4 linked regions of the Homo sapiens genome follow. The protein of the gene in region 4 purifies or fractionates together with the protein of the main gene of each other region. This does not show direct contact. Each region holds a gene or a part of one and is shown on either strand. Other genes may lie near its edges. The genes, in order: CTSV, SLC30A9, DPY19L4 and VNN2.

Region 1 (6,995 bases), on a different chromosome or scaffold from region 4:
AGCTTGCAGTGAGCCAAGATCGCACCACTACACTCCAGCCTGGGCCGCAGAGCGAGACTCCATCTCAAAAAAAAAAAAAAATTATTAGCCTTTGCACAGTTCTCTGGTGAGATGGTCAACAGCTAATGGTTACCATATAAGTACCATTAGATGGTTAACACACAGCTGTTCTTGCTTTTACATAACATGGAGAATAAGCAAACCATTCTACATATAATAGAACTTTATCCATTGTGAAAAATTTTTTATGGACAGATTGACCTAGGGGTTCTCATTGAAGAAATGTCAACTAATTTTTCATTTTCAAATCAACAAATAGCATTTTATTTCATGGGACGATTTATAAGGGTGTTGATTTGGAAATCCTAGGTTGCAAATTGCTGAGTGTTTCGGTTCTAGAACTAATGTTCCCCAGGAGGTAGATGGTAGTGATCAAGTCTCTCCCCCTTTAACTTTAAAAGGATGAAATCTGTAAGTACAGACCTGAGAATTCTGTTGCTAATGACACTGGCTTCACAGTGGTCGCACCTGGAAAGGAGAAGGCCCTGATGAAAGCAGTCGCAACTGTGGGGCCCATCTCCGTTGCTATGGATGCAGGCCATTCGTCCTTCCAGTTCTACAAATCAGGTAAGTGTCATTTTATTATAGAAATTTAGGCAGAATTGGGAAGCATCACTGTGATTGATTCTTGGATATGACATCCTGCTTTGCAGGAATGTAGTATTTTGAGAGTGAGCATTTAACATAGTGATGTTTGCATTTGACATGAGAAAATACTTAGTTATGTTAAACTTCTCATAAATATTTTTAAATGGCTATGTAATTGTATAGAGACAACCTAATTTTCCAAACTATTTTCCAGTTGTTGGGCCTTTTTTTCTCAAAGTTTTTTACTACTGTAATTAGGACTGTAAAGAATCCCCTTCAAGTTTTTGTTTGTTTATTTTGGTGCTATTTTAGACTGACATCCTAGGAACAGAAAGGGATTATGCGAGTTGGTATTTGGGCTCAGAGATATCTAAATCACCTTAGCTGTAAACAATAGGTTTTATCTTTTGGATTTTCATTTTTTTTGGTAGAAAATATCTTGAACTTAGTTGAAGTTAGTTGATTTCTAGTGAGTTGAGGTTGACTTTTTTCCTTTATCAGCCATTACTGTTTTCCGGCCAATATTGTTTGGGTCCTTATTTGGCATTTGTTTATGACATTTTACTGAATTTAGAGATGCCTCCCTTATGGAGGGTGGTAGGGTGGGTTACTGTCACATGTCGCTTGGAGCTTCTCACCCCAGCATTAATTTTACTCTCCCAGGCATTTATTTTGAACCAGACTGCAGCAGCAAAAACCTGGATCATGGTGTTCTGGTGGTTGGCTACGGCTTTGAAGGAGCAAATTCGAATAACAGCAAGTATTGGCTCGTCAAAAACAGGTATAAAACTCAAAATTGAAAAGGGAATTTTTGTTCCAAATCAGTATTTGGATACAAGTTCACAAAAGCTCAATTTCAAAATTCCGAAAGTCTTTCTTCTACTTAGAGTGAACACAGAAATATTAATGTTTGATTATAAGATTCCGTACCAAGCTTTTTGGAGTTATTGCTATGTATTTGTAATATTTTATTACTAAGTTTTGAAAATTTTTAAATTCTGAAACACATTAGTCCTCAAGGGTTTCAGACAAAGGACTGTGGACCTGTAGGTTTGAGAGCTGATTGCTTTTTTCTGTCTAATTTTTCAACAAGGAATAGTAAGCAGAAACATCTGCCTCTGCTGGTTCTTTGTTAAGTCTGAGAGATCATCCGGGAGTCCAGTGGTCTGTGTGCATCCTTCTATTGTCATTGGATGCCCTGTCATCGAATTTCACTCCCCAGCTCTCAGGCTTTGAAGGTTGTCAGAATCTATTTTCTCACAATTAGCATTCTTTAATTGAGATGTGACATAAGGTAGTATGTGGGGACAGACTGCTACAGTGGAATTCCAGTTCTGCCTCAGTATCTTAAATAGTTAAGGACCCACAAGAATCAATATATTCATTCATTCATTTGTTTATTTATTTTTTGAGACAGAGTGTCGCTCTGTCACCCAGGCTGGAGTGCAGTGGCACGATCTCAGCTCACTGCAACCTCTGCCTCCTGAGTTCAAGTGATTCTCCTGCCTCAGCCTCCCAAGTAGCTGGGACTACAGGGATGTGCTACCATACCCAGCTAATTTTTTTTGTATTTTTTAGTAGAGACGGGGTTTCACCATGTATGCCAGGCTGCTGTCGAACTGACCTCATGTGATCCGCCTGCCTTGGCCTCCCAAAGCACTGGTATTACAGACATGAGCCACCGTGCCCAGCCAGTTTTATTTTATTCTGAGATGGAGTCTTGCTCTGTCACTCAGGCAAGAGTGCAGTGGTGCAATCTCGGCTCACTGCAGCCTCCACCTCTCGGGTTCAAGTGATTCTCCTGCCTCAGCCTCCCAAGTAGCTGGGACTATAGGCATGCGCCACCACGCCTGGCCAATTTTTATGGGGGTTTTTTTGTTTGTTTTTTTCTTTTGAGATGGAGTTTTGCTCTTCTTGCCCAGGCTGAAGTGCAGTGGTGCAATCTTGGCTCACTGGAACCTCTGCCTCCTGGGTTCAAATGATGATTCTCCTGCCTCAGCCTCCCAAGTAGCTGGGATTACATGCCCGGTTAATTTTTTTTTTTTTTTTTTTTAATTTAGTAGAGGCAGGGTTTCACCATGTTGGTCAAGCTGGTCTCAAACTCCTGAAACCTCAGGTGATCCACCCGCCTCAGCCTCCCAAAGTGCTGGGATTACAGGCATGCACCGCACCTGGCCAATTTTTGTATTTTTAATAGAGACGAGGTTTCACCAGATTGGCCAAGCTGGTCTCAAACTCCTGACCTCAAGTGATCTGCCCACCTCGGCCTCCCAAAGTGCTGGGATTGCAGGCGTGAGCCACTGTGCCCAGCCTCAGGACATTTATAAATGGATATTAACAGCATTTAGAATAGTGCCTGACACATGGGAAGCACTGTTTAAGTATTAGCTATTATTATTAATGGAGCCAATTTTCCCTTGATTCCTTGTATAAAATGGAAAACCTGCTCCTCTTTCAGCTGGGGTCCAGAATGGGGCTCGAATGGCTATGTAAAAATAGCCAAAGACAAGAACAACCACTGTGGAATCGCCACAGCAGCCAGCTACCCCAATGTGTGAGCTGATGGATGGTGAGGAGGAAGGACTTAAGGACAGCATGTCTGGGGAAATTTTATCTTGAAACTGACCAAACGCTTATTGTGTAAGATAAACCAGTTGAATCATTGAGGATCCAAGTTGAGATTTTAATTCTGTGACATTTTTACAAGGGTAAAATGTTACCACTACTTTAATTATTGTTATACACAGCTTTATGATATCAAAGACTCATTGCTTAATTCTAAGACTTTTGAATTTTCATTTTTTAAAAAGATGTACAAAACAGTTTGAAATAAATTTTAATTCGTATATAAAGGTGGGCCTTTTTTTAATGCATTGGCTTTTTGTGTAGTCAGGAAATATAATTAAGCTCTGAAATAATAACTTCATGTGCCAATGGTATGTTAGGAGAAAGATGCTAGCAGAAAGCTGGCTTCCTGGCTCTTGAGTAGTTATAAAAATACAGACTTTATATCAGCTGCCCAGTTACTGTGTGTTACCCAACTCCTGAATCTACCAAAATTTGATAAACAATTTGGAAGGACAAACCTACATTTTTTTTTTTTATGAGACGGAGTCTCTCTCACTCTGTCACCAAGGCTGGAGTGCAGTAGTGTGATCTCAGCTCACTGCAACCTCTGCCTCCCGGGTTTAAGCAATTCTCTGCCTCAGCCTCCCGAGTAGCTGGGATTACAGGCGCGTGCCACCACGCCTAGTGTATTTTTAGTAGAGAGAGGGTTTCACCATCTTGGCCAGGCTGGTCTTGAACTCTCGACCTCGTGATCCACCTGCCTCAGCCTCCCAAAGTGTTGGGATTACAGATGTGAGCCACTGCGCCCAGCCCCTAAATTGTTTTAGTAAAGAAGAAAGCAGTTGACTTTTTAGAAAAGGAAATGTCTTCTTCCTTTGACACATAACCTCAAGATGGTTAGGTTACGTGATAAAAAGTGAAGCTGCTTGTTACTGGAGCCTCTCTGAATTGCTGGTGACCACTTTGCAGTCTGAGGAAGACGCAGGTGCAAGTAAGTTACCAAGGGTATTTTGTTTTCATTCCAAGTCTCTGATGACATATTCCACCTAGCTCTTCTAGAAAAGCTTATTTGTTAACTAGTGTTAGCAAAAATAAATGGTGTGGTTAACAAATCTCAGGCATTTGACAGTAGCTGGAGAAATTTGTTCAAGGTCCACAAGAGATGAGGCTGGGCTACAAAAAGAGGCCTCTGGCCGAAGATGGATAAGAGATCACAAGTGAAAGGTCAGAAGTCACTAGGCCAGACTCTGGCTACCTAATCCCTGAATTAAAAATAAACTCAAAATGGGGGGAAAAAGGCTAAGCATATAGTTACACAGGTAGTAAATACAAATAAAACGATATTTTTGCATATTTAAAATACTGGAAGAAAGTACACCAAACTTGTGGGTGAATTATGGGTGGTTATTTAACTCGTTTAGTGAAAAGCATGTATTTTTATGAGCAGGAGAAAATAGTAAAGATATACCCACATTCTGCAGGCTAAAGGAGAGCCCTGTGTGTGTTTTAAAAGCCCATGTTTCCAGTCAAATAAAAAATTACCGGGGATGAGCTGGTGAAATTTAATCGAAAGGTGATCCATTGTGAATGCAATGGGAGGGAAGGGGCATGTGGGACTGTGTATCCCAAAAACCCTTTGATAGCCTATGTCCACAGCCATCTCTGGAAAATCCAGTCTACCATATTCAGTCTTGAGTTTTCTCTGAGAAAGGATTCCTTCGTCTTTGCAGCAGCAGGCTAAGTTGGTACTCTCCACAGATTCTTGGAACAACAACCCAGGCTCTAAGGAAACATCTAGGCACTAAATTGAATGAAAGAGTGATGGCTTTTTATTCAAATAAAAAAATTTCAAATCTGTCAAAACAGCACCCCTCGGAAAACTAAAATAGAGATATTTCAAGATTTTATAATTTTCAAAGACCTTTGAAATATTTTAAACTTGTGAAAAGTTACAAACCTGATGTGTTGTCTAAAAGCGTTTTTCAAACAAGCCAGTAGACTTGAAAAATCTAGTCTGAAGCACAGACTTAACCAATATTTGCTGGGGATATGCCCCCAAATCTGGCCATAAACAAAATCTCTGCAGTACTGTGACAGGTTCATGATGGCCATGACGCCATGCTGAAGGTTTACCGGAATGAGAGCAAGGAACACCTGGACCACCCAGGGCGGGAAAACGGCTTAAAGGCGTTCCTAAACTACAAACAATAGCATGAGCGATCTGTGCCTTAAGGACATGTTCCTGCTGCAGATAACTAGCCAGACCCCATGCCTTTGTTTCGTTTGGGAAGGAATACTTTTAGTTAATCTATAATCTATAGAAACAATGTTTATCACTGGCTTGCTGTCAATAAACATGGGTAAATCTCTGTTCGGGGCTCTCAGCTCTGAAAGCTGTGAGTCCCCTGATTTCCCACTCTGCATGCTATATTTCTGGGTGTGTGTCTTTAATTTCTCTAGCGCCTCTGGGTTAGGGTCTCCATGACCAAGCTGGTCTCGGCAAATATTTCCTATACTCGAACATCTAAATTGTTTGTTTTCTTACTTGAATTGCAAAGGAAGTAAGGAAGGGTGAGATAGAAATCACTGAGCATATTAAGAGGGAGGAGTTTGCTGATGTGGGAGTGTAGTTATGACACTTGGGCATCATACTAGAGGCTATGGACTTAGCAATAAGGAAACATCCACTCAGCCCTATGTGTGGTTCATGTGTATGTTTTGCCTATGAAAGTTGAAACTGTTTTCTAAATGTTATTTCCTTTTGTAACTGATAAAATTTCTAAAAAGCAAAGAAGAAACTTTTCTGTATTAAAAATAACAAACATTAGTAAATGTATATATACAGTCATGTGTTGCTTAATGATGGGGATACATTCTGAGAAATGTGTCTTGGGTGATTTCATCGTGACGTGAACATCATAGAGTACACTGACACAAACCTAGATGGTATAGCCTATTACACACCTAGGCTATATGGTACAGCCTGTTGCTCCTAAGCTACGCACCTGTGCAACACATCACTGTGCTGAGTACTGTACACAGTTGTAACACAGTGGTAAGTATTCGTGTATCTGAACAGAAAAGTACAGTAAAAATATAGGATCATAATTTTATGGGACCACTATCATATATGCAGTCACTGACCAAAACATCACACAGCACATGACTTGTGTGTATGGATATCTCAATTGTAAACAATTTCACAAATGTTCATTATCTCTTTTTAAGTAAGTTAATAAGTAAAACTATTACTAAGCTGCAACGTGTTCTTGTTCTGCAGTGTATTTATTCATTTGGATACAGTTGATTCTTGAACAATGCAGAGGTTAGGGGCACCAACCCTTGTGCAGCCAAATATTTGCATATAACTTTAATTCCTCCAGAACTTTTCTACTAATAGCCTACTGTTGACTGGAAGCCTTGCTGATAACATAAACAGCCAATTAACACATATTTTGTGTATGTATTGTAAAATACTGTATGCTTACAGTAAGCTAGAGGAAAAAATGTCATTAAGAAAATCATGGCCAGGCACGGTGGCTCACACTTGTAATCCCAGTGCTTTGAGAGGCCGAGGCAGGCAGATCACGAGGTCATGAGATCAAGACCATCCTGCCTAACATGGTGAAACCCCATCTCTAATAAAAATACAAAAACAAAATTAGCCGGGCGTTGTGGCCGACACCTGTATTCGCAGCTACTCAGGAGACTGAGGCGGGAGAATGGCGTGAACCCGGGAGGCGGAGCTTGCGGTGAGCCAAGATCGCGCCACTGCACTC
Region 2 (6,461 bases), on a different chromosome or scaffold from region 4:
GCTCTGTCGCCAGGCTGGAGTGCAGTGGCACAATCCCGGCTCACTGCAACCTCTGCCTCCCGGGTTCAAGCGATTCTCCTGCCTCAGCCTCCCGAGTAGCTAGGATTACAGGCATGCGCCACTATGCCCAGCTAATTTTTGTACTTTTTAATAGAGATGGGGTTTCATCATGTTGGCCAGGATGGTCTTGATCTCTTGACCTTGTGATCCGCCCGCCTCGGCCTCCCAGAGTGCTGGGATTACAGGCGTGAGCCACCGCGCCCGGCCAGGTGCCCTTCCTTTGTGCACTCACAGGAAAAAGAAACCCAAAATCTTTACTTTGCTCTGTGGTAGCCGAGTGTTGTAATTGCCTACTTAATTTACCTATATCACCTCACTACCAAACGTAAGTCCACTGAAGGCAAATACTGTTTGTTCCCAGCTCATTGTCATATACACTTCAATGCCTGGCACAGAGTAGGCATGTAATAGTAGACAGTATTGGTTGTTATTGAATTGAAGTTCCTTAAGCTAGCATATAAGATTTTTAACAACCTGATTTCTGCCTGTCTTTCCAGCCTCATTACCAACCCTACCCTTTTTGCAGCTTCTGTGCTAGCTATACCATAGTGCCAGTGCACACTTTGCAGGCTGTCTGACTTTGCTGATGTTGTGTTTTCTGTCTAGACACTCTTCATTATCTACCTGGAAGGCTCATCATATGCAGACCTACCTTAGATATTATATCCTCAGTGAAATTTTCTAGATCTCATGAGCAAAATGGCTGTCTCATTTTTGCTCCCAGTGTTATTATTTAGTACAGTGTAATAGGAGCTTGGGATCTGGAATCAGGCCTGGAGTCAGGCCTGGAATCAATCCTGGCTCCATCACTTACTAGCAGTGTGACTTCAGACAGGTTAGTTAATTTCTTCGTACTTCAGTTTTCCCTGATGTATGTATAAGATGGAAATAGTAATTAGGTTATGAGGCTTTTAAAACACACATACATGTGCTCATGTAACACAGTACTTGATACATGAGTGAGTAAGCAATAAATGTTAACTTTTTATTATTAGCTCTAATACTTTAACTTGTAGATGATTACTGCTATGCTGGTCTCCCTAGCTAAACTGAGTCACTCAGGGTCAGGAACAGAGTCTTATTTAATAATCATAGCTCTGTTTTCTAGCACAGGGCCCGGCCCAAGAATATATGGATTGTTGCTAAAGTATATAAAATGAGTGGTTGTCAATTTACTCTTTTTGATTATTATTGTTTTGCAGTGATTTTGTTTTCACCACACAAAAATGTGTATTTCCAGTGCTTCGCAATGCTTGGCATGTACTAGATCCTTAATGCACTTTTGTATTAACAAACACATGAACAAACTTAGGAATGTGATACTACTTATTGTACTGTTTATAGTATGTCTATTTACCTATTGATCTTACTTTTTTTCTTATGCAACTATTTCTCTCATTAGTATGCTATAGTGAAATAGTTTGCAAATGTTTTCATTGGCTCTAATGACCAAAAGGAATAAAAAGAAACAAGATTTTATTTTGCTACAAATAATGTGGTGGTGATTTTTCTTTCCAGAAACGAAATCCTGAAGTTCGACATGTAGATTTGGAGATACTGTGAGTTTGATGGAATGAATCACCTGGGTGGGGACCTTGGAAACAAGTTTGTCCGTCCACTCTACAAAGTTTCCTCCTCTCCTACACTGAAAGACTCAGTGCCATGCAGAAGCCTTTTTTTTAAGATGAAGGAAATATTTTATGTAAAGAGCAACTCAGCAGGACACAGAACTAAAACTACTACTTACATCTAACAGACACACTACAAGTTGAATCAATTTGAAAATCATGTTTTTATGCTTCCATAGGGAACATTTTGGTTATTTAAATTGTTCATAATGTCCCATATTTCACCTGTTCAGTGTATACTGTACTTTGCAATCATCTTTCCTTTTTTCACATTGGTAAAAATAAGTGGCATCCATAGGATCATGATTTTTAATTTGTTGCCTCTGAAGATTTCACTCCATCAAGATCTGCCAATCTTCAATATTCTGGCTAAATCTTGGTATGTGGTTTTTAAACAGTCACTCCGTTTCAAAGTCTGTCTTTCCTTATAGAATGTGGAAATTATTTCTCCATACCTTGTGATTTTGACCTGAGTGCTAAGAGAATCACTCTCCTTACCTAGTTATCTACAAATGTTCATTCCAGAAATGTTTAGTTACTGAATTGAATGAAGACATCTCAGTACACTCTTTTAGGTCATAGTAGTTGCCATTTTGTAAAATTTCTTTTTTCTTCTTTGCTTTTTTCCCCTTATTTGGTTTAATTTTTCTAATGTTAGGAGATATAGTCCTAGATATTTCCATGGGCCAGTGTGATGACTTTTTTTTAAATGAGGTTCAGTACCATAATGTTTATTTACTGGAAGATAATGCATTTATAAGCATTTTAAAATTCTGTAAAGTGGGTTAGAAATATTTATAATTTTACAGGCAGGACAGCATTTGACTTTTATTTAAAAGGCGGCACTACTTATGTAAATCTGAGCTGTGGGATATTTCTTGCTTTAAGAGAGAGACAGAATCTCTCACTGAAACTCATGGTCATGATTTTGTATAATATAGTTCATACTGTGTCTGTGAGTTTCTTCAGTTACAAATGGGCATTTAGTATAGTTATATTGACTATAACATGTAAGTAAATAGCTTTCTACTGACCCTAAGTTATCAAGGTGGAAAAAAAACATGCAATTCAGTAATTGAAAATGTGGTGAAAAGCTGCAGCTGTCATCATCAAAACAACTCATAACATACTTTAAAATGTTCAGGTAGCAGTGAGCATTGTTCATATGAGAATGGCGGCTGGGTGATCTCTTTGCTGAATTAATGAGTTCTTAACATGTGGACCCAACTGCCTGTGTGAGATCTGTGTCTTAAAACTTACTGGAATGGAAATCTATGAATTATTGCAAATTGTAATGCTGGAAACAAAAAATAAATCCTTGGTTAAAGGGTTTGTAATGGTGATTTTTGACCCAGAAATCTCATTTACTGGAAAATTGTGAGACTTTACGTTGGTGTATTTTTCTTTTTTTTTTTTTTACTATTACAGAGTATTTTGCATGCTGTACATTTTAAGTGAAATAACATTCCAGTTTTATTTTTAAGATAGAAAATTGTTATATATATATATAATTTGATACTCTATTCTTACAGTTTCAAATTCCTTATCCCTTCTTTACAAAAAAAACTTTTTTTTTACCTGTTATGATTTATTCTATACTTTTTTCTTCTTCCTTCCCCTTTCCCACTTGCCATTTATTACTTCATGTCATTGCCATATGAGAAAGTACCAAATTATATCCAGTTTCCTCCTAGTGATATTACTCTGAAAAATTTCACAAAGCCAGACAAGAATAATTACTCATTTTTTTTCCCAAGACGACCCTCAAAGTTAATGTGCAGCAGGTATTCCAAATGGTAATTTTTTTTTTTTAGGATTCCCTAATAAAAAAAAAAAAAATTCTGATATTTCTTTTTAAATCTGATTTTGGTTGAGGTCATACCATTCTTAAATAATAATTGAAGGTTTATGTTGCCATCTTTTCTAATTCTGTTTTGCACTGATAAACTTACATAAAGTTTGTTTATGTAAAATAAGACATAAAGGAGTACAACATATCAAGGAATTTGAGTATTTATGTGGAATCAGGAAATTTTTCTAGAGTCACTGAATTTTCAAATCAGAGAATTTGGGCTGGATATGGTGGCTTATGCCTGTAATCCCAGCACTTTGGGAGGCCGAGGCAGGAGGATTGCTTGAGCTCAGGAGGTCAAGACCAGCCTGGGCAACACAGCGAGACCTCATCTCTACTAAAAAAAGTTAGCCGGGTGTGGTGGTGCTCACCTGTGTTAGTCCATTCTCACACTGCTATAAAGAAATACCTGAGACTGAGTAATCAAAAAAAGAGCTTTAATTGGCTCATGGTTCTGCAGACTGAACAGGAAACATAGCAGCTTCTGCTTCTGGGGAGGCCTCGGGAAACTTCATTCATGGCAGAATACGAAGGGGAAGCAGTCATAGCCAGAGGAAGAGCAAGAGGCGGGGATTGGGGGTAGGTGCCACACTCTTGTAAACAACCAGATCTCATGAGAACTCACTATACAGTACCAAGAGGGGAAGGTGCTAAAGTATTCATGAGAACTCCACCCCCGTGATCCAGTCATCTCCCACCAGGCCCTACCTCCAACATGGGATTACAATTCGACATGAGATTTGGTGGGGACAAAGATCCAAAGCATATCAGCATCTGTAGTCACAGCTACTTGGGAGGCCGAGGTGGGAGGATCACTTGAGCCCCAGAGGTCGAGGCTGCAATGAGCTATGATCATGCCACTCCAGCCTGAATGACAGAGTGAGATCCTGTCTCAAAAAGAGAATTTGGGTCTCTTTCTCCAAAAATAAGGCTATATTTAGTTTTTCAGGTTTCTTGTTATTTTACCAAATTAATGTTTCTTACTTTGTATCTACTTTGGCATATAGCATTTGAGTATTAAAGCATATAAATCATTTTTAAGGAAAATATTCTCTGCAGGAGAATAATTACAAAAATAATACTGGACAGAGGAGGGGCAGTCAAGGGTCCATGATTGATTCCTTCTTGCCCAAAACTAAAATCTAGGATTTATCAAAGGTGAGGTATACAGTGGTCCCTGACTTATAATGGTTGCACTTAAGAATTTTTATGATGGGTTTATTGGCACATAACCCAATAATAAGTAAAAAGCATCTGTACCTACTTTTAGCTTTGGCTGAGAATGGATCTCTAATTCACTGTAAGTAGCAGTCCCCAAACTATATAAGGTGGCACAGTTTTCATCATGGCAGTGGGAGGATGAGGGGTGGAGTGTTTTTGTTTTTTTTGTTTTTTTTTGAGACAGAGTTTCGTTCTTGTTGCCCAGGCTGGAGTGCACTGGCACAATTGCAGCTCACCGCAACCTTCACCTCCCGATTCAAGTGATTCTCCTGCCTCCTGAGTAGCTGGGATTACAGGCATGCGCCACCACACCCGGCTAATTTTGTATTTCTGGTTTAGACAAGGTTTCTCCATGTTGGTCAGGCTGGTCTTGAACTGCCGACCTCAGGTGATCCGCCCTCCTCGGCTTCCCAAAGTGCTGGGATTACAGGTGTGAGCCACTGCTCCGGTGATCTGTTTTTAAGTGGAGTATCCTGGGGGCCTATAGTATCCAACTCCAAAGAGGTAAGTTCCTGAACATACACTAAAGAACCTGTGAGATAAGATCAGACGGAAAAATTTTCAAATTTTTTCAAAAGCAAAGGTAATCCCTGCATACATCCTCCTACACACACACACATAGTGCAAAGTGAATAACAAAATGTCATAAGGCTTGAGTTTTTGGTATATGGCTTTCAGTGTTACCTTATCTCATAATTTAGGTAATGATTTTTGCTAAAATGATAACCATCTAAAGAGTGCCTAAGTTTTAAGTCTCGTAACTTTTTGAGGAAGAATGCTGGGAACTACAGAAAACTGCATAGGCATTTAGAATTTGTATTATCTTCTTAGACTGCATTTGTCAAGCTTTGGCAGCATTTCTTTTAAATGTGATGAACCCCAATTTGCCAAACTGTCAGAAGTCAGTGAAGCAAAGAATCGAAGGTAAAATGTTGATTCAAAGATTGTCTCCCCTAAATCCTTCATTTCTTTCTCTGAAATGGAACTTTGGAAGCCATTTATATAGATTAGTCTGACAGCCTTTATATTTGCATGTAAGTTTACTTGCATCCTTAGACTTGGCTTTATGCAAAAAGAAAATTTTTATTCGTTATATTGTATTTCATCTGTCTGATTTCCCTGGCACATTAAGATGGTCCTGGTCCCTCAGGATACTTTTTCCCTTAATAAATGTCATATGTAAATAAAGGCAACTCATTTATTAGTTTGGGATTTTTTTTCCCTTGAGAAATAAATGTTTGTTGAACATAAATTCTTCTTTACCTCATGTGCTAAGAACTAAACTATATAATCTGATATATTTTTTATGCCTATGTTTTTGAACAGAATTTGTTACTCATTCAGTGTGCCTGTTAGTTTTTTTTTTTTTTTTTTTTTGAGACGGAGTCTCGATCTGTCGCCCAGGCTGGAGATCCGCTCACTGCAAGCTCCGCCTCCCAGGTTCACGCCATTCTCCTGCCTCAGCCTCCCGAGTAGCTGGGACTACAGGCTCCCGCCACCACGCCCAGCTAATTTTTTGTATTTTTAGTAGAGACGGGGTTTCACCATGTTAGCCAGGATGGTCTCGATCTCCTGACCTCGTGATCCACCCGCCTCTGCCTCCCAAAGTGTTGGGATTACAGGCGTGAGCCACCGTGCCCGGCCGCCTGTTAGTTTTTAGGATTTCTTTTTGGTCGTACAAAACCTAACTATAATAACTC
Region 3 (7,029 bases), on a different chromosome or scaffold from region 4:
GTCTTCCTTGATGCAGTAGAGGGCCAGGGTGTTTATATTTATGCTTTCTGAACGCAATGTTAGAGCAAAGAAAGAAGTGACAACCTTGAGTAGAGCAGTATTAACATTTCACTTGGAAACTGCTATGTCTAGCCTGGATAGACATTTGAAAGTCTGTTTGTAGCCCTACTGTTTCATATGAAGATGACTGGACTGAAGTCTGAAATAGCAGGTTACTTTTGTGGATGTGTAATCATCTTCATTTAGTTTGACTTTTTCTTTACAATGCTAAAAATATCAGATAGTGAAAAGGAGTGGCCGGGCGTGGTGGCTCACGCCTGTAATCCCAGCACTTTGGGAGGCCGAGGCGGGCAAATCACGAGGTCAGGAGTTTGAGGCCAGCCTGGCCAACATGATGAAACCCCTGTCTCTACTAAAAATACAAAAAATTAGCTGGGCGTAGTGGCGGATGCCTGTAATCCCAGCTACTCGGGAGGCTGAGGTAGGAGAATTGCTTGAACCCGGGAGGCGGAGGTTGTAGTGAGCCGGGATGGCACCACTGCACTGCAGCCTGGGCAAAAAGAGTGAAACTCCGTCTCAAAAAAAAAAAAAAGATAGTGAAAAGGAAACCTGAATTACATCGCAGAGCTTTCCTGTCAGAACTGATAATCTCATTTGTCCATTGCTTTGGCCTTTGCTTTTTTTCCACCTAGAGATGTGTGACTTTGTTTTTCCATTATGAAATTATATGAAAAGTTAGCTTTAGGGATAAGGTTGAAGAGATGAGCTAAAATGAATACTGTATTTATCGAGTCGTACTTTTGGCTCTTACAGTTTAATGCCACTAAAATTGATATGTCTTAAAATCAGTGCACACATTCAGTATGACAGTGTGGTTTTTTTTCCCCTTGAAAAACCTATTAAGTAGTATCTTCAAACGTATGGCATCTTAGAATCAGGAAAATATAATATTATAGATCTTTTATAGATTACATATTTGTATGGTCCTTGATCATTGCTAATATAAGTTCTTGAGAGATGATTGTTGAGATTTGTATACTTCATAAATTACTTGAAAATCTATGCAAAATGTTTGTGTAAGTTGTACTTTTATAAACAAAAATCATTTATGGACACAAAGAGAACATGTTTAATTAAAGTCCTGTAAAGCGATTTATTTGATAAAGAACATTTTTAAAAAGGAAAATGATAATTTTTTGTAAGAACACATTTTATGTGACTATTCCCCTCCCAATTTATCACTAAGTGTGTATTTTTAGACTCTAATGGAAAAGACCCACCTACCTAGCCCATTGGTCACATATAGTATATTTGTTGACTATCTCAATAGATTTGTTAATTTGACTTCTGAAATTATCCAATTAAATGTTTTAAAGTCCAATGCTATTACGTGATTAATCATGCAGGTGTACCTGCAAAGGAAAGTTCTTGTAGTTATATCTTCCCCTTGTATTCTTTTAAAATAAAATTAAAAACAATAATTTGCTTTTGAAGACTTATATTTGATTTTGCATAAATATGCGTTCTTGTTGACTGCTTCTAACTTTTACTTTAACCTAGAGCAGGGGAATATTAAAGAGGCATAATGAGGAAGGAATATAGTAATATTTACTAATTGACCTAGATTTATATACAGAAATACTCAAAGTCTGGGGTATGTTTTTCTAATAATGTCATTTTTTGTTTTTTTTGTTTTGTTTCGTTTTGTTTTTGAGACGGAGTCTCCCTCTGTCACCAGGCTAGAGTGCAGTAGCGCGATCTCGGGTCACTGCAGCTCCACCTACTGGGTTCAAGTGATTCTCCTGCCTCAGCCTCCTGAGTAGCTGGGATTACAGGAGTGCACCACCACACCCGGCTGATTTTTCTATTTTTAGTAGAGACAGGGTTTCACCATATTGTCCAGGCTGTTCTCGATCTCCTGACTTCAGGTGATCCACCCACCTTGGCCTCCCAAAGTGCTGGGATTACAGGTGTGAGCCACCATACCCGGCCTAATAATGTCATTTTAAAATATTTTCATTGATTTCACTACTTAACATGACTACAGAATAAATGGTAGTATAGAAATGGGTAAACATTAGATTCATCAGTCTGAATCCACTAAATGTACAGCTTTTTTTTTATCACTATGCCAGTGTTTAAAGATATTTTAGTGAACATACAAGTTTGCTATGAAGCTATTTTAAGATACATTTATTTTATTCATTTTCCACAGTAAAGCTAGAGAACATCCATCTGATCAGCAGCAACTGATTCATTTCTCCTTCTTTGACTTTTATGTTTATTTTCACATTTCATAGCCTGAAGTTATTACTAAGAGAAAGGAAGAAAACTGTCTTCCACTTCCATGAGAAAGATAAATTATTGTATCACTTTATAACTTGGCAGGAACACTCTGTACTTACAGTATCATAATCTATCCCACAAGATGATTAATTCTAGGGAGGAAAAGTATAAATTGTATATAGTACATTCCTGTTCATCTTGGAGTTTAGTTTACTAGTTTGGAGGTAACTTCTGCATCACATTTTCTGAAACTGGAGCTAGAAGAGGAAGATAGTCTAATCCTGGGAAATTATTTTGAGACCTTCTCATATATAGGTATCTTTGTAGGTTCAGCCTATTTTCTAATACCTAAATCTATAAGATTGTACAATGCTAATGATAACACAGCACTGAAATTCTGCAGAACTTTTAGGGTTATTTAAAAACAGAAGTGTAGTTTATGATGAATGTATTATGTTTTGATTTTTTTTTTGAGATAGAGTCTCGCTCTGTCGCCCAGGCTGGAGTGCAGTGGCACGATCTCGGCTCACTGCAAGCTCCGCCTTCTGGGTTCACGCCATTCTCCTGCCTCAGCCCCCCAAGTAGCTGGGACTACAGGCGCCTGCCACCATGCCAGGCTAATTTTTTGGTATTTTTTTTTTAGTAGAGACAGGGTTTCACCATGTTAGGATGGTCTCGATCTCCTGACCTCGTGATCCGCCCACCTCGGCCTCCCAAAGTGCTGGGATTACAGGCGTGAGCCACAGCGCCCGGCTATGTTTTGATTTTTAAAGAACAGTTAAACCATAAATTATGCATTTGATACTTTAAGGTAACTAGAATTATGAGGTGAATAACACCTTGACCCCCAGTTTGGAAAAGAGCTTACTTATTTTGGGATGTTTTGAAAATTCCATCATCTTGGGAGAAGAGCACATTGGTTTACTATTAGGATTGTCAAAACACAGATTGGGAAGTGGAACTTAAATTGTCTTTTTTTAGACAAAAGATAATTTTGCAGGGGTGCCAAAATAATTATGAAAAGGTTATCTTTGATACTAATAGGTCTTAGTGGTACTTTTGCTTTAGAATAATAAAGGTTAATTGGCTCAGGATACAGATTAAAACAATTTTATACACACATTGCAATAATGTCTTAAATATTTTAAGGACCACCTGTAGAGCTGCGCCAAAGAAAAAAGCCAAAGTCTTCAGAAAATAAGGAATCTGCCAAAGAAGAGAAAATCAGTGACATTCCAATTCCTGAAAGAGCTCCAAAACGTAAGTTAGATAGACTTGGAATTTGTGCTACTACAAAAATAGTTTACACTAGAAAGTATATTTTATGTCAATATTTTAAATATACATATTTTGAGATTAAGTATATGCTCAGCTTTCACTAGGTTTTGGACAACCCCCAAATCTCACTGGCTTATGACAAACATTTATTTCTAATTAATATTACATGTTGTGGCTGCAGTTTGGCTGTCGTAGTTTTATGTGTTGCGAAGGAATAGTCCGTATTTGGGAAAGATTTTTCTTGTGACGTAGGAAAAGAGGAGGCAGAATCATGCAATGTCTCTTAAAGTTTCTGCTGACCTGGCACACTATCACTTGTACGCACCTTTTATTGGCCAAAGCAAGTCATATAATCAATTCAGACGATGGGATGTGAAGTATACTTTGATTACAGGGAAGTGTTCCAGGTCACATGGTAGTGGGCAGGGATATATAAGATTTTTAAAGGGAAGGAGAAAATAGTTGTGAATAATAATATAGTTTACCACACCCTGTCCTTGTGATTTATTTCTCTCCCTCAGACAAAATACGCTTACTTTTTCCCACACCCGAAAACTCTCTCTTATCTAGTCACAGCCTTAATCTTGAACCCAAAGGCTTATCTACATCAGGGCCAGCTATGACTCATTCTAATCCAGAGATCTATGAACTAAAAAGACAGGTTATCTGTTTTATGTCGGGGGTTCCCCAGAACACCCCCATGTTTGGTTATTAGCTGGAAGGACTCACAAGTTTCAGAATGAAGTTGTATTTACAGCTATGATTGATTGATTGATTGATTGATTGATTTTTGAGACAGAGTCTCGCTCTGTCACCCAGGCTGGAGTGCAGTGGCACGATCTCAGCTCACTGCAACCTCCACCTTCTGGGTTCAAGCGATTGTCCTGCCTCAGCCTCCTCAGTAGCTGGAACTACAGGCACATGCCACCACGCCTGGCTAATTTTTGTATTTTTGGTAGAGACGGGGTTTCACCATGTTGGCCAGTCTGGTCTTGAACTCCTGACCTCAAGTGTTCCACCTGCCACAACCTCTCAAAGTGCTGAGATTATAGGCATAAGCCACCGTGCCCAGCCTACAGCTATGATTTATTATAGCAAATAATATAAAACAAAATCAGCAAAGGGAAAAGGCCTATTTTGGTGAAATCTGCAAGAAACCAGGCATAGGCTTCCAAATTTCCACTCCAACAGAGTCACACAGGATGGGCCTGATTCCTTCAGCATCAAATTGTGACATTTGTAAAGTTTTATCTACCAGGGAAGCTCATTAGTGACTCAGTGCTCAGGGTTTTTACTGGGGGCTGGTCATGTAGGTATCCTCTGCCTACCATGTCCCAAAATTCTTGACTCCCAGAAAGAAAGCATAAACTACATTGTTTGTACAAAGAGGATAGGCACTGTTATCAGTTAGAGAATGGTGGGAACTCTCCTGAAATTGAAGTTCCTAGATGCCAGCCAAGAGAGCCTACCTTGCAAGCAGGGCTTTCTTTTTTTCCTTTTTCTTTTTCTTTTTTTTTCTTGAGACAGAGTCTCACCCTGTCACCCAGGCAGGAGTGCCATGGTGCGGTCTCTGCTTACTGCAACCTCCATCTTCTGGGTTCAAGCAATTCTTGTGCCTCAGCCTCCCGAGTAGCTGGGATTATAGGCATGTGCCACCACACTTGGTTAATTTTTGTATTTTTAGTAGAAACGGGGTTTCACCATGTTGGCCAGGCTGGTCAACTCCTGACCTCAGGTGATCCGCCTGCAAGCAGGCCTTTCTCAGGAAAGCGGTCTCAGGCCTGCTGTGTTAACTCTTTTCTGCACATCCCCCCACTCTCAGTATACACTGTTGGACAGGGACAGGATATCCCCTTACTCTGGGATAAGGAATCTGTTGTGTTTATGCCCCAGTTGTGTTCCTGGGGAATTGTTTTCCAGTTCATTGTTTTCCATGGTCCTTGATTTTACACTCTAGAGATCTTTTCTCTTCCATTTTCCTCTATAACCATATCTAAAGATGGGTTTGGAGAATGTGTCATCCTTAAGGGCTAAACAGCTTTCTCAGATTGCTTGCTCTGCACTAAAAGTTGAGGCCTATATATAAATTTGCTCAAGATAAAAGCTGTGGGTAATCTACAAATCTAGGTGAGGGGCTGGCCGCAAGAAAACTATATTTGGGAGCTGGAAAAATGAAGATCTATATTATATCATGACAAAACATTTGATAATACTGTTTCCTGTGAACAGTTGACAATACTATTTTTTTCTATCATTTTAGGTAATGAGATTGCAAAACAGAATGTTACTAGAGTGCCTTTGTTATTAACATCTGCATTTGACTACAGGAAAGAGATCTGGGTTTAGAATAGAATTGGACTATTTGTAAGTGGGAATAAAGAAGAAAATAGAGAATCCCAAAATTCTGGGACTTGTAATGTTGAAGTGAGAACAGTTTATTAACCAGGCATGGTGGCTCGCGCCAGTAATCCCAGCACTTTGGGAAGCTGAGGCAGAGGATTGCTTGAGGTTAGGAGTTCAGGACCGTCCTGGACAACATAGTGAGACCCTGTCTTTATTTAAAGAAAAAAAAAAAAGAAAAAGCTGTTTGTCTTTTTCAACCAATGAAAGTTAAAATCAAGAAATGGGAGGCCAGGCACGGTGGCTTAAGCCTGTAATCCCAGCACTTTGGGAGGACGAGGCAGGTGGATCATGAGGTCAGGAGATCGAGACCATCCTGGCTAACATGGTGAAATCCCGTCTCTACTAAAAAAATACAAAAAATTAGCTGGGCATGGTGGCATGCAACTGTAGTCCCAGCTACTTGGGAGGCTGAGACAGGAGAATCGCTTGAACCTGGGAAGCGGAGGTCACAATGAGCCGAGATTGTGCCACTGCACTCCAGCCTGGGTGACAGAGTGAGACTCCGTCTTAAAACACACACACACACAAATTTAAACTTAGGCAATATAGTGAGACCTCATCTCTACAAAAAATCAGAAAAAAAAAAATCAGCCAAGTGTGGTGGTGTGCCCCTGTAGTCCCAGCTACTTGGGAGGCTGAGACACAAGAATTGCTTGAATTCAGGAGGTGGAGATTGCAGTGAGCCGAGAATGTGCCACTGCACTCCAGCCTGGGCAACAGAGGAGATTCCATCTCAAAAAAAAAAAAAAAAAAAAAAAATTTAAGCCTAGGCAATACAGTGAGACCTCATCTCCACAAAAAAATTAAAAAAAAAAAATTAGCTGAGAATGTGGTGGTTCATGCCTGTAGTCCCAGCTACTTGGGAGGCTGAGGTAGGAGGATTGCTTAAGCCTGAGAAGTGGTGTTTGCAGTGAGCCAGGATCACGCCACTGCACTCCAGCCTGGACGATGCAGCAAGACTCTGTCTCAAAAAACAAACAAACAAAAAAGTTAAAAAATTTGAAAAATACAACGTAAGAAAGAAAATTAAATAGTCTAGAAATATCGATTACAAAATAGTAT
Region 4 (7,419 bases):
CACTTGTCATTTTGCATTCAGGAGAAGGGACAGAACAGGAAGTCCAGTAGCCAGTGTCAGAGCCTGGAGCAGCTCCTCTCCTTCCTGGGGTTGAGTTCCTTGGTTTTCTTGTTTCACCTTTGCTACCCCACTGCAGTTTTTCTACCACGCTGGGTTTAGCACGAATCAGGAGTTGATGCCCAGGTACCCTGTCAACCCCATTTCATTCCAGCAGTTCTTCAGCACGGTCATCCAAATAGACTAGAATTTGAATTGAACAACAGTAGTTCTGTGGGCCTAACAATGAAATAATATTAAGCAGTCAGGATATTATATTACTAAATAGTCACTCACTTTTGTTAATTATTGTCATCTGCGTTGTAGTCTTACAGAGGACTTTCACATATCTTTAGGAGATAGAGCAGGTATGATTACCTAAACTTTTAGATGAGAAATAGAGGTCCAAAGAAGTGGTGCAAAGCAGAAACTACACCCCTATGCTTACTCTTGAGAAAGTGGGAAAAAAATGAGGTTTTTAAAATTAAAGACCTAAAACCTAGTCCAATTGAACATTATTCTAACAGATGATCAGATTCACAATTAGAAACAAATATTTGAGCTATTACTGTTTTTCGTTTATTTGCTTGTTTTTTATTTTTGAGACAGAGTCTCACTCTGTCACGCAGGCTGGAGTGCAATGGTGCTATCTCGGCTCACTGCAACCTCCTCCTCCTGGGTTCAAGCAATTCTCCCGCCTCAGCCTCCTGAGTAGCTGGGATTACAGGCGTCTGCCACCATGCCCAGCTAGTTTTTGTATTTTTAGTAGAGACTGGCTTTCACTATGTCGGCCAGGCTGGGCTCGAACTCCTGACCTCAAATAATTCGCCCGCCTCGGCCTCCCAAAGTGCAGGGATTACAACCATGAGTCACTGCGCCCACCCCAATACTGTTTTTTTTTTTTTTATGGTGACTCTTTGACCAAATAATTTTTAATTGATTTTAACTTTTTACCCCTTTAGCTAAGTTCATTAATCCCAAAATGGCAAATTAGGAAGTAGGCTCTTTTAGCAACGAATTACAATTAATCAATGTTCCCTGTGGCAAAATAACCTTACTTTATTTTATAATTCAGTTAAACTAAAAATTTTAATCTTTACCTGATCAATCATCTTTATGAAAAGTCAACTATTGAAACTGTATGTCCTGAATTTGGTTTTTTACTTCTGAAGATTTAAAACAATATCAATGACCTCTACAGCAAATATTTTCTTCACATCTCAGGGATTTTCCTATATTTAAATTGCTCCTTCATTTACTAACTTCTAATTCTTTTTTGCAATTACCTTTGTTACTCAAATTCTCAGTTTCAATGAGACAATTTTTAGATGCTTCAAATAAAAAAACAAAGGAGGGAATTTAGTCATCTTGATTTTATATCAGAAGTGATTTTCCCTTTCCCTGTTAGCCAAACAAAAAATCCAAAACTCTGATCAACATCATTTCTATCTTTTACAGCCAAGGACAGAGAAAAACATCCAGATTTGGGAACACAATAACAGATATGATTGTCCCCACTTCTACTGCCAAAATTATAAAACTGTTAACTCCTCCTCATCAGCTTACCTGACTACTTAAAAGCAAAAGAGTTAATTAAGTATTACTAATTGGTGATACTAGATCAATGAAGGTAGGTCATGGCCCAAATTGTACTTATGGAGATGGAAGAGCTTAATTGTTTTTATTAGGCATCAACTGCATCAGAAATTTCATTAGCACTTAGCAAATTTGCCTATGGTCTTCTTAAGGTGATCATTTTGAATTGGGTTCTTTAAAAGACATGAATGACTGGCTGCAGTGACTGACACCTATAATCTCAGCACTTTCAGAAGCCAAGGTGGGTGGATTGCTTGAGCTCGGGAGTTTGAAACAAGCCTGGGCAACATGGTGAAACTTCCTCTCTACAAAAAATAACAAAAATTAGCCTGACATGTTGGTGCGTACCTGGTGTTCCAGCTACTAGCGAGGCTGAGGTGGAAGGATCACTTGAGCCTGGGAGGTGGAGGCTGAAGTGAGCCATGATCATACCACTGCACTCCAGCCTGAGCAATAGAGCAAGACTCTGTCTCAAAACAAAAAAACAAAAAACAAAAAAACCCCAAAAGACACGAGTGTTCAGACACTCAGTTGCAGACATTAAAAGAGAGCACAGACACATGTGCTGTTTTAGGTATAAAGGAAAGACTCTGGAATCAGGAATGAGAAGCGAACATCCTGCTCTGTCGCTCTAGCTCTCTATGCCTCAGATTCCTATCCTGTAATAAGTGGGCATTTGGGTTACATGATTTCTAAACTCTAACAGCACTCATAATCTATTATATACCAATCACCTATGCTAATTTACTAATTATACACTAGATAGTATGGTTATATACTAACAGTCTATTATACAATCTGCTAAAAATTCATAAAAATATCTATCCCTTTACATTTTCCACAAAAGGGCTTGACCATTTTTCCTGAATTATTTTTAGTTTTCTGCTCTATAGAGATAAGAAAAGTTATTCCTTTAATAGAAACTTCTATTCAAAGCAGAAAATATGAGCAGATCTTATTTATAGCCCCTAGGCCCCATTCTTAACAAAACATTTATCTCAGTAAGAAGGAAAGCACAGAATAAACTTTGTTTAATCGTACCTACTCTTCTATGCTGTCTAAAAGCATTTCCGTGACTTTTACCAAAGGGCTGGATAAAAATAAAACAAATCCTTTATTTGGCAGGATTGGGCCTGGGGAAGGGAGAATATGAATGTCCTAAGAAGGCATCTGAGATCACATCCTGTATTTGTTGTTATTATTGTTTTTTTTTTTTTTTTTTTTTTTGAGACGGAGTTTCGCTCTGTCGCCCAGCCTGGAGCGCAATGGTGTGATCTCAGCTCACTGCAGCCTCTGCCTCCTGGGTTCCAGCGATTCTCCTGCCTCAGCCTCCCGAGTAGCTGGGATTACAGGCGCCCACCACCACGACCAGCTACTTTTTGTGTTTTTGGTAGAGATGGGGGGTTCCACTATGTTGGCCAGGCTGGTCTTGAACTCCTGACCTCAGGTGATCTGCCTGCCTCGGCCTCCCAAAGTGCTAGGATTACAGGCATGAGCCACTGCACCTGGCCTGTTAGCATTGTTTTTAAACTCATTGTTGTTATTTGCTGCTAACAAAAATGTAAGTTACATCTTCTCCTTATTACAACACAGATGATCTTTATCACCAATCCTGGACTCTTCCCCTTCCCTGGCATCTTCCTCCAAAGCAGGGGGTGGGGAGGGAGGAAAAAGAAGGAGGAGAAGGAGTAGGAGGAGAAGGAGAAGTAGGGGGAGGATGGGGAGGGAAGGGTGAAAGAGAGAAAGAAGGAAAGAAGCGGAGTATCCTGAGGCCTGGGGCCCCTGAGCTGAGATTCCTCCTCTGGCCTAGGTGCCTCGGGGTATTGTTGCTGTAGGCACTAACTATACAGCAGTGAACAAACCAGACACAAAATCCTGCTTTTCTGGAGCACATGTTTTCAGTCCTTAATAGCAATAAGTAAGTCAGAGTGTAGATTTGGGTAAATTTTGTTATCAATATTGTCCTGTGTTACATTTTCTTAGTAGTAAGTATTTAATATTTTCCCCCCCGTCTAAAAATAAACACAATGTAAGTGACTCAACAGAACCAAAAAAATTGTTGTCAATTTTTAAATTTAATAAATGAGATATTTGTTGGGATGTGATTTTTTTACACGAGAGTTAGTTATGAGTTTCTATTAACAAAAGCTGGAATTGTTCTATATTTGAATTCGGGTGTCTTTTGGAAATTCAATATTAAATCTTAGTACTAATAGTACATGCTGTTCAATCCCTGTAATACTTTCTGATTGTCTTAAATGGACTGCAACTTTTCTTTCTTTAAAAGTGGTCAGATATATTGCGTTCTTAAGATTATAAAGTAGGCCAAGTGCAGTGGCTCACGCCTGTAATCCCAGCACTTTGAGAGGCTGAGGTGGATGGATCACAAGATCAGGAGTTTGAGACCAGCCTGGCCAATATTGTGAAACCCCATCTCTACTAAAAATACAAAAATTAGCTGGACGTGGTGGCGCGCACCTGTAGTCCTAGCTGTTTCAGAGACTGAAGAAGGACAATCGCTTGAACCTGGGAGGTGGAAGTTGTAGTGAGCTGAGCTTGCGCCACTGCATTCCAGCCTGGGTGACAGAGCAAACTCCGCCTCAAAAAAAAAAAAAAAAAAAAAAAAGAAGAAGAAGAAGAAGAAGAAGAAGAAGAAGAAGAAGAAAAATGATGATAAAGTAAAAGGCCAGTAACTGGCAGCCACATGTTATGCAAACATTCTCCCCTCTGTAAATACTACATGAATGTTATTTTTGCTTTCAGAAATCACTAAACCTTGGCCATGGTCACTTCCTCTTTTCCAATCTCTGTGGCAGTTTTTGCCCTAATAACCCTGCAGGTTGGTACTCAGGACAGTTTTATAGCTGCAGTGTATGAACATGCTGTCATTTTGCCAAATAAAACAGAAACACCAGTTTCTCAGGAGGATGCCTTGAATCTCATGAACGAGAATATAGACATTCTGGAGACAGCGATCAAGCAGGCAGCTGAGCAGGTATTCTCTTATTTCTGTTAATCATAATGTACACGAGGGGCATGGGAGCTGGTGGAAGACGAGAGAGCTGAATTGTCTGTGTTGTACATGGAAAAATCATTTTTATTTTGCTTGTTTTGAACAGGGTGCTCGAATCATTGTGACTCCAGAAGATGCACTTTATGGATGGAAATTTACCAGGGAAACTGTTTTCCCTTATCTGGAGGATATCCCAGACCCTCAGGTGAACTGGATTCCGTGTCAAGACCCCCACAGGTATTTTAACTATCTTAGTCTTTTGTGCAAAAGTAACTCTCTAAAATGCGCACGTTCACCAAAGCAAAATGATTGCTCTTGAATTACCATATATGTGGTATATGTTATGGTTATATTTATCTCAACATTTGTCAGATTTTAAAAAATTGTACTTAGATACTATTTAACAATCTTTTGTGATTGAAAATCTTTATTAAATTTTGAGAAAATGTGTAAATAGGGTATTCCTGCAAGAAAAACTAAGGGAAGAGATCTCATAGATACAAGTAGTAACTTAATTTCTGAAGTAGACAGTGGATTGTGTTAGGAATACATTCCAAAGCCTCTGCTGAAGGGACACCCTTTCAATGTTATAGAGTCTCTCCATTCCAGAGTTGCTTCTTAGGCAGAAAGACTTCACCATGTATTTTCAAGTGAATCATAAGACCTTATGCTTTGAAACTGCATTTTCCTAGGCTCACAAATCTAATTTTCCTGGGAAAAGGTTATCTAGAAACCTTCTAATATATATTAAAAATCTGGGTCCTACTGTCATCCTGGAGGTGTCAACGTGGCAGTTGCATGGACAAGTCTGGCATGAAAAGACAAAATTATATCTGGAGATAGAAAATCAAATGTCAGCATATAGATGGTGTTAAACACCATGATGAGTTCACCTGTGGAGTGAGTTAGAGAAGAGTTTAGGTATAAGGCTTGAGCACTAGGAAATTCTAGTGTTTAGACTCGGAAGAAAACGAGGAATCAGCAGAAGAGTCGAAGAAGAGCAACCAATAAATAGGAAAATGAGAGGGTGGGTCCAATAGAGAAGTGAGGTGTTTCCAGAAGGAGGTGTAATTAACTGTGCCAACTGCTGTTGAAAAGTTAAGATGAGATCAGGTAAAATGTGGGGGTCACTGCTGGCATTAGTAAGAGTTTGGGTGATAGAGATACAAGTTGGAGTGCTCTGAAAGGGAATGGGAGAGGAGGAACTGGCAACAGCAAGAGGGACTGATCTTTTGAGGAGTTTTGCTTTAAGAGAGAGATGAGGATTAAAGCAATATTTGGAAGGGCATGTTTGGAAAGGTCAAAAGAGGTTTTAATTTTATTTTTTAAAGATGGGAGGTACTAGAGGATATTTCATTGCTGATGGGATGTTTCAGTAGAGAGGAGACCCTTGATGAGGCAGGAGACCGAATAATGAATTTCTGGAGCAATAGATACCGTGTGGGAAGCATTCATCAAGTGTATAATCATCTGTGGCTTTTAAAGTATGATATTTTTAGGCATAGTTTTTGTATTAACTTAAGTTCCACTTAAGTGGTTACAGTTGCTATCGTTTCCATATAAAGTGACTAAAATATTTTTTTAAAATTGAAATTTCTTAATTATAATTTGGTTTAGATTTGGTCACACACCAGTACAAGCAAGACTCAGCTGCCTGGCCAAGGACAACTCTATCTATGTCTTGGCAAATTTGGGGGACAAAAAGCCATGTAATTCCCGTGACTCCACATGTCCTCCTAATGGCTACTTTCAATACAATACCAATGTGGTGTATAATACAGAAGGAAAACTCGTGGCACGTTACCATAAGGTAAGAGAGAGTGACGGACGTGTAAAATGGAGCGTGTTGTGAGTGGTCAATGCTGGGTTTAGGAGTTTGAATTTCATTCCCTATATGATACAATATTACTAGAGGGTTTTTTTGTTTTGTTTTGTTTTTTGTTTTTTGAAAGTGGGCAATAAAGAAAATGACACTTTTGGCTGGGCGTGGAGGCTTATGCCTGTAAGCCCAGCACTTTGGGAGGCTGAGGCAGGTGGATCACTTGAGGCCAGGAATTTGAGACCAGTCTGGCCAACATTGTGAAACCCCGTCTCTACTAAAAAATACAAAAATTAGCGGGGCGTGATGGCACATGCCTGTAGTCCCAGCTATGTGGGAGCTGAAGCAGGAGACTTGCTTGAACCCAGGAGGTGGAGGCTGCAGTGAGCCGAGATTGTGTCACTGCACTCCAGCCTGGGTGACAGAGGGAGACTCTCAAAAAAAAAAAAAGAAAAAAAAGAAAAAGAAAAAAGAAAATGACACGTTGTAAAAAACTACTCAGAAAAACATGTAGGCAGAGAACTGTTAAAAAAAAAAAAAAGTAGCATGATGGTCCAGGATTGAGATAAACTTTTTGCACATATAAAACAAATAATTTTAACATAAAAAAAGATACTAAGGTGACTATAATCTGGGCACTGTTTCAATAATTTTATATTTTTTTAGAGACAGGGTCTCACTGTTGCCCAGGCTGGAGTGCAGTGGAGCCATCATGGCTCACTGTTAACCTCAAACTCCTGGGCTCTAGTGATCCTCCTGCCTCAGCCTCCCAAGTAGCTGAGACTGTAGGCATGTGCCACCATGCTAATTTTTAAATATTTTTTTGGAAACAGAGTCTCACTACATTGCCCAGGCTGTCTTTGAACTCTTCACCTCAAGCAGTCCTCCCACCTTGGCCTCCCAAAATGCTGAGATTAGAGGCATGAGCCACTGAGCACAGCCATAATCTAAATAC

What was found.
Region 1: the proteins of VNN2 (region 4) and CTSV purify together in Homo sapiens (affinity purification with mass spectrometry; 2 studies listed by BioGRID and IntAct, with this or other methods). This does not show direct contact.
Region 2: the proteins of VNN2 (region 4) and SLC30A9 purify together in Homo sapiens (affinity purification with mass spectrometry; 2 studies listed by BioGRID and IntAct, with this or other methods). This does not show direct contact.
Region 3: the proteins of VNN2 (region 4) and DPY19L4 purify together in Homo sapiens (affinity purification with mass spectrometry; 2 studies listed by BioGRID and IntAct, with this or other methods). This does not show direct contact.

The regions. Positions count from the first base shown.
Region 1 is NC_000009.12:97,029,160-97,036,154, reverse strand, and holds the end of CTSV (cathepsin L2 preproprotein), read left to right. Parts: intron 1-461; coding exon 462-627; intron 628-1,311; coding exon 1,312-1,429; intron 1,430-3,106; coding exon 3,107-3,206; 3' UTR 3,207-6,478; downstream 6,479-6,995. UniProt on the Homo sapiens protein: Cysteine protease. May have an important role in corneal physiology.
Region 2 is NC_000004.12:42,084,504-42,090,964, forward strand, and holds the end of SLC30A9 (proton-coupled zinc antiporter SLC30A9, mitochondrial), read left to right. Parts: intron 1-1,578; coding exon 1,579-1,623; 3' UTR 1,624-5,958; downstream 5,959-6,461. UniProt on the Homo sapiens protein: Mitochondrial proton-coupled zinc ion antiporter mediating the export of zinc from the mitochondria and involved in zinc homeostasis, zinc mobilization as well as mitochondrial morphology and health.
Region 3 is NC_000008.11:94,722,896-94,729,924, forward strand, and holds part of DPY19L4 (probable C-mannosyltransferase DPY19L4), read left to right. Parts: intron 1-3,435; coding exon 3,436-3,546; intron 3,547-7,029. UniProt on the Homo sapiens protein: Probable C-mannosyltransferase that mediates C-mannosylation of tryptophan residues on target proteins.
Region 4 is NC_000006.12:132,754,879-132,762,297, reverse strand, and holds the start of VNN2 (pantetheine hydrolase VNN2 isoform 1 precursor), read left to right. Parts: upstream 1-4,393; 5' UTR 4,394-4,414; coding exon 4,415-4,627; intron 4,628-4,751; coding exon 4,752-4,882; intron 4,883-6,262; coding exon 6,263-6,455; intron 6,456-7,419. UniProt on the Homo sapiens protein: Amidohydrolase that hydrolyzes specifically one of the carboamide linkages in D-pantetheine thus recycling pantothenic acid (vitamin B5) and releasing cysteamine. Involved in the thymus homing of bone marrow cells.